2 separate regions of the Homo sapiens genome follow, and region 1 is linked to region 2. The links come from fine-mapping of genetic effects on gene expression. Tissue or cell type: subcutaneous fat. Region 2 holds a variant in brackets; the other region holds the start of a gene. All regions are shown on one strand. Distances are from middle to middle.

The links. PIP is the estimated chance that this variant, and not a neighbour inherited with it, causes the effect.
Region 1: PSMG3-AS1 starts here. The variant in region 2 is fine-mapped to the expression of PSMG3-AS1 in subcutaneous fat (GTEx, PIP 0.98).

Annotation. Positions count from the first base shown.
Region 1 is chr7:1,569,006-1,571,759 of GRCh38, forward strand. It overlaps PSMG3-AS1 (PSMG3 antisense RNA 1), which reads left to right and starts at 1,068. Exons shown (of 5, transcript NR_027329.1): 1 at 1,068-1,274. It overlaps PSMG3 (proteasome assembly chaperone 3), which reads right to left and starts at 1,027. Exons shown (of 2, transcript NM_032302.4): 1 at 119-1,027. The coding sequence starts at 334. RefSeq lists silencers at 699-1,128, 1,569-1,648 and enhancers at 757-1,325, 1,949-2,018, 2,029-2,078.
Region 2 is chr7:1,588,525-1,591,278 of GRCh38, forward strand. PSMG3-AS1 (PSMG3 antisense RNA 1) reads left to right here. Exons shown (of 5, transcript NR_027329.1): 5 at 1-1,102. Among named protein-coding and RNA genes, the nearest start is that of PSMG3-AS1, 20 kb to the left of the region's middle. The variant A/AC (reference allele first, on the strand shown) is at 1,568.

The DNA of each region.
Region 1 (2,754 bases), 20 kb before region 2:
GTTGTTGTGTTGCCCAGGCTGGTTTCAAACTCCTGGCCTCAAGCGATCTGCCCGCCTAGGCCTCTGAAAGTGCTAGGGTTACAGGCGTGAGCCACAGTTCCCGGCCAATCCACTTTACCTCATCCTGCCCCAGAAGGACTTTTGTGGTGAGCACAGGCTTGCTGACGTCACTGGCCACGCTGCTGGGCTCCAGGGAGACCAGGGTGCCCATCTTCCCAAACTGGGTCACCACCACCAGGATGTGACTGCTGAAGGCCGTACACACCACCTGGGTGGGGACCCCGCACACCACCTCCGTCTTCTGCTTCGATATCACCAACGGCGTGTCTTCCATGGCGGGGCTCTGCAGTGGCAGCTTTAATTTAGGTTAAAAAGAAAGGGGAAAAAAAGGAGTCAATCAAACAGTACAGCCTTGGGGCTCCCAAAAAAGTAGCACGGGGCATTGAAACGGAAACGCAAGGAGGCCCATTCAAAAGAAGGGGCCAGGCGCGGTGGCTCATGCCTGTCATCCCGGCACTTTGGGAGGCCGAGACAGGACGATCGTTGAGGCCAGGAATTCGAGACCAGCCTGGCCAACATAGCGAGACCCCCATCTCTACCAAAAAAAAAAAAAAAAAAAACCAGCAGGGCGCGCCTGTGGTCCCAGTTACTCAGGAGGCTGAGGCGGGAAGATCGCTTCAGCCCGGGAGGTCGAGGCTGCGGTGAGCCGTGATCACACCATTGCATTACAACCCGGGCGGTAGAGCGAGACCCTGTCCGTAAAAAAATAAAACAGAAGCAGGAGCGGGGCCGCCCATAGAGACCGCGCCTGGGGCTTTCTGGGTTAGGGGATCGACTTGCACGTTCACACTGCCAGGCCGGGCAGTGGCTTCCCGCCCCTCGGCCTCGCCGCCGCCCCGGCCCTGCAGCCGCGGCCCGGGACCCCCACGACACGCGGTGCCGAGGCCGGCCGGGCTACTGGGGACGCAGCCGCCCGGGGAAGCCCGCGGGTACCCGCGCTCACCAAGCCGGCGCCGCGCCCGGAAGTGGCTCTGCGTGCGCCACGCGGGCCCGCCCCGTCCGCGGGTTCCGTCCACCTTCCGGAAGTCAGGGCCGCGGCGCTTCTGGTCCCGGAGACTTGGGGCTCCCGGGCTTCTGAGCGGCTCGGGTTCCGCGCTGCCGGCAGGGCTTGGGGGCGCCTTAGAGCCGAACCCCGTTTTTTCAGGAAAGGGCGCTGCGACCACCCCCGTCCCGGGCCTCAGCCCCTCTGCTGCAGACCCTCGGGATCGTCGCTGGTAGGAGCTCTGTCCCCCGTGTCTGTGTCCAGGACCCCCGAAGCGCCGCGCCTAGGAACCCCCTAGCGCTGGGAGCCCGGCCCTGCTCGACCACGGGCTTTGGGCTGGAGGCGTCATCGTCGCCACAGCGAACGCTTATTTGGCACCGAGTGTCCGCCAGGCATCGCTCTAAGCGCTTTATACCCATAACTCACTTCATCTCAGCCACCCGGTTCCGTAGAAGCGTTTCATCCGCGTTTTACAGACGTGTGCAGGTGCAGAGAGCTCGGCCAGGCTCAGGCGGCGGGCGGGCTGGGGTGGGCTCCGACCGTCCCTCGGGCGCTCCGTGACACGAAGCCCCGGCCAAGGCCAAGAAGGGGGCCAGCCCCACCCTGAAGCGGGATGAGTTCTGGTTCCTCCCAGGGACCCCCTCACTCCCTACTGCTCACTCTCAGTTTCTCCAAGCTGGAAGGTTTTTTGTTTTGTTTTGTTTGAGACGGAGTCTTGCTGTGTCACCCAGGCTGGAGTGCAGTGGCGCGATCTCGGCTCACTGCAGCCTCCGCCTCCCTGGTTCAAGCAATTCTCCTGCCTCAGCCTCCTGTGTAGCTGGGATTACAGGCGTGCGCCACCAGGCCCGGCTAACTTTTTAAATTTTTAGTAGAGATGGGGTTTCACCATGTCGGTCAGGCTGGTCTTGAACTCCTGACCTCAGGTGATCTGCCTTCCTCGGCCTCCCAAAGTGCTGGGATTACAGGCGTGAGCCACCGCGCCCCGCTGCTGGAAGTTTTATTGGTAGGGTCGGACATCTTGGTAGCAGAGGCTGAAAGTGATTGGAGCCTCCAGAGCCTTCCTCGGGGTGGGGCGTTTAACATCCCTTCAGAACCCCACCCTCGGAGGCCTTACTGTCGTTTCCTGACAACCATGTCAAGGCCGTATTTTCTGTCTATATTACCAGAAAGGGGTCCCGATCCAGACCCCAAGAGAGAATTGAGGGCGAGTCCACAAAGTGAAAGCAAGTTTATTAGAAAAGTAAAGGAATTGAGGCAGGAAAACAGGGTCTGGAGGCAGGGAACACTTCAGCTATGACAGGAAATACCCTCTCCATAGGGTGTACACTGAGTAAATGATTTTGTAACTTTATTTCATCCTCTTTATTTACATAGGGCGTACACCAAGTAACCAGTAGAAACCCCTAGAGGGTATTTAAACCTCACAAGTTCTGTAATGGGGCCCTGAGCCTCTATGCTTTGGCCGCCCCCACACCATGGAATGTACTTTCATTTTCAAAAAATTTCTGCTTTTGTTGCTTCATTCTTTTTTTGCTTTGTGCATTTTTTTTTTTTTGAGACAGAGTCTCTGTTGTCCATGCTGGAGTGCAGTGGCGTGATCCTCACTGCAACCTCTGCCTCCCGGGTTCAAGCAATTCTCCTGCCTCAGCCTCCTGAGTAGCTGAGATTACAGACGTGCGTCACCATGCCCGGCTAACTTTTGTGTTTTTAGT
Region 2 (2,754 bases):
CATCCAGTCCAGGGGCAAGAGATGACGAGATGTCCCGGCTCCAGTGGCGAGGCAGGAAATGAGGGGTGAACTCCTCCTCCCTCTGCTGTCTGTTCTATTCAAGTTCTTGAGGGATTGGATTATGCCCAGCCACTTGGGGAGGGCAGTCCACCTTCCTGAGTCCACAATTCAAATGCTGATCTAATCCAGAAACACTCTCACAGACACAGTGTGTAGTCTGGGCACCCCACAGTGCACTTAAGTGGACACATAAAATTAACCATCCCAGGGAGTGAGATGGGTAAGGGAAGATGGGCCACAGTGGGTGTGTCTCCATGCCTACCCCCACTGTGGGCAGCTGCTGGAGCACACGCCTCAAAGTCTTCCCTGAGGGAGAGGGAGCTGAGGTGTTTATATCCCAGCTCTGTCAGGCATTGGCTGAATGTCCACACTCCTGGATCACCGCCTCTCATCCTCATGATGTCCCATGGTCCTCATTTCACAAGTGAGCTCTGGGTACATGGGGAGCATCAGTCACACCCTGGGTCAGTACCTCAGCTGTCTCTCACATGACATCCTCATTATCCACACTGCAAAGCCAACCATCCCTATGATGGGTTCATTGTGGATCATGACTTAGTGGGTCAAGAGTTTGGAAGTGGCTCAGCTGGGCGGTTCTTCTGCTCCATGTGGCTGCCAGATGGTACCCTGCTGGTGGGCAGTCTGGTCTAGAGGGTCCATGATGGCTTTACTCACATGCCTGGCATCTTGACAGGGACAGCTGGAAGGCAAGGTTCAGCTGGGACTGTCCACAGAGCTCCTCCCTGTGGCCTTTCCAGCATGGTGGTCTCAGGGTAGCTGGACTTCCTGCATGACAGCTCAGGGCTCCCAGAGCTACTGTCCCAAGAGATAGAAGGTGGAAACTGCCAGTCTCTTAGGCTAGGACCAGAAACCAGCACCCCTGCACCCACAGCCTTTTGGTAGTGATGAAATAAACATAAGATTTATCATTTTAATCATTCGTAAGTGGGATTAAATACATTTACAATATTGTGTAACCATCGGCACTGTCTATATCTAAAACTTTTTCATCATCTGCAATAAAAACTCTGTATGCATTAAACCATAACTCTCCATCCTTCTGCCCCTCTTGCCGCTGGTACCCACCATTTTGCTCTACCTCTATGAACAAGGCCATTTCAGACACTTCACATAAGCAGAATCATACAGTATCAGTTTTTTGGCAATTGGCTTATTTCACTTTACATAATGTCCTCGAGTTTCATCCACATTGCAGCACATGACGGCACCTCATTTCCTTTTAAAAATTTTTTATTTATTTATTTTTTATTTATTTATTTTTGAGAATGAGTTTTGCTCTTGTCACCCACCTGGAGTGCAATGGAGCAATCTCAGCTCACTGCAACCTCTACCTCCTGGGTTCAAGCGATTCTCCTCCTTCAGCCTCCTGAGTAGCTGGGATCACAGGCATCCACCAACACACCCAGCTAATTTTTGTATTTTTAGTAGAGGCGGGGTTTCACCATGTTGGCCAGGCTGGTCTTGAACTCCTGACCTCAGGCAGGTG[A/AC]TCCCCCCCGCCTTGGCCTCCCAAAGTGCTGGGATTATAGGCGTGAGCCACTGTGCCCAGCCTTCATTCCTTTTGAAGGCTGAGTAATGCTCCACTGTGTGGAAGGACCACGTTTTGTGTATCCATTCATCGGTCCACGACACTTGGGCTGCTTTCCCCTTTTGGCTGTTGGGGACGGTGCTGCTGTGAACGCGGGTGAACAAATGACTCAGTCCCCACATGCTCTTGATGGAGCCCGGAGCCCACAGATTCAACGGGAGGGGGAACAGCTTCCTCTCAATGGGAGGGGGGCAAAGAATTTGCAGTCTTTTTTCTGTTCATTTGTTTGTTTGTAGACAGGGTCTTGCTCTGTCACCCAGGCTGGAGTGCAGTGGCACCATCAAAGCTCACTGCAGTCTCAACCATCTGGGCTTAAGCGATCCTCCCACTTCAGCCTCCAGAGTAGTTGGGACTACAGGTGCATGCCACCAAGCCTGGCTAATTTTAATGTTTTTGTAGCAAAGGGATCTGGAGATGCTGCCTAGGCTGATCTCAAACTCCTGGACTCAAGGGATTTTCCCACCCCGGCCTCTCAAAGTTGTTGGGATTACAGGTGTGAGTCACCTTTAATTCCCTGCACCGTGCTAGACAGAGATTGCTGAAGACTGTGTTCCCGGGGCCACATAGCAAATCTGCCAAATGGCAGAGGAAAGGGGAGATAGGGGCCCGGGGTCTGGAGAAATGAGGCTGGGTCTGGGGAAGACAGGTCAGAGGCAGCGTGGCTGGGAGATGCAGCTGGGAGAAGTGGAAGGAGAGGGTGGGCGTGGAGGCTTCCGGAGAGGGGTGGGCATGTATCATCCCTCAGGAGTGGAGAGACTTGGGTTGGGTTCAGAGAAAACCAGGCTGGGGAGAACTTGAGAGCCCAGGCGTGAAGGCTGATGTGTGTCTGGGCTTCACCGCCCTGAGCTGTGTGGTCAGGAGCCATCACTGAAACTCTCAAACATCCTCTTTTATAAGATGGGAATAATAATAGGACCCCTTCAAAGGGCGTCGAGGGAATTCAGAGGGAAAGTCTGTGCATACCTCTGACCTGGCTGTGATATTCATTTTAGGAGTCAACTTGACTGGGGTAAGTGGCGCCTAGAGAGCTGGTAAAAAACATCACTTCTGGGCGTGTCTGTGAGGCTGTAATGGCCAGCCGGGTGGGT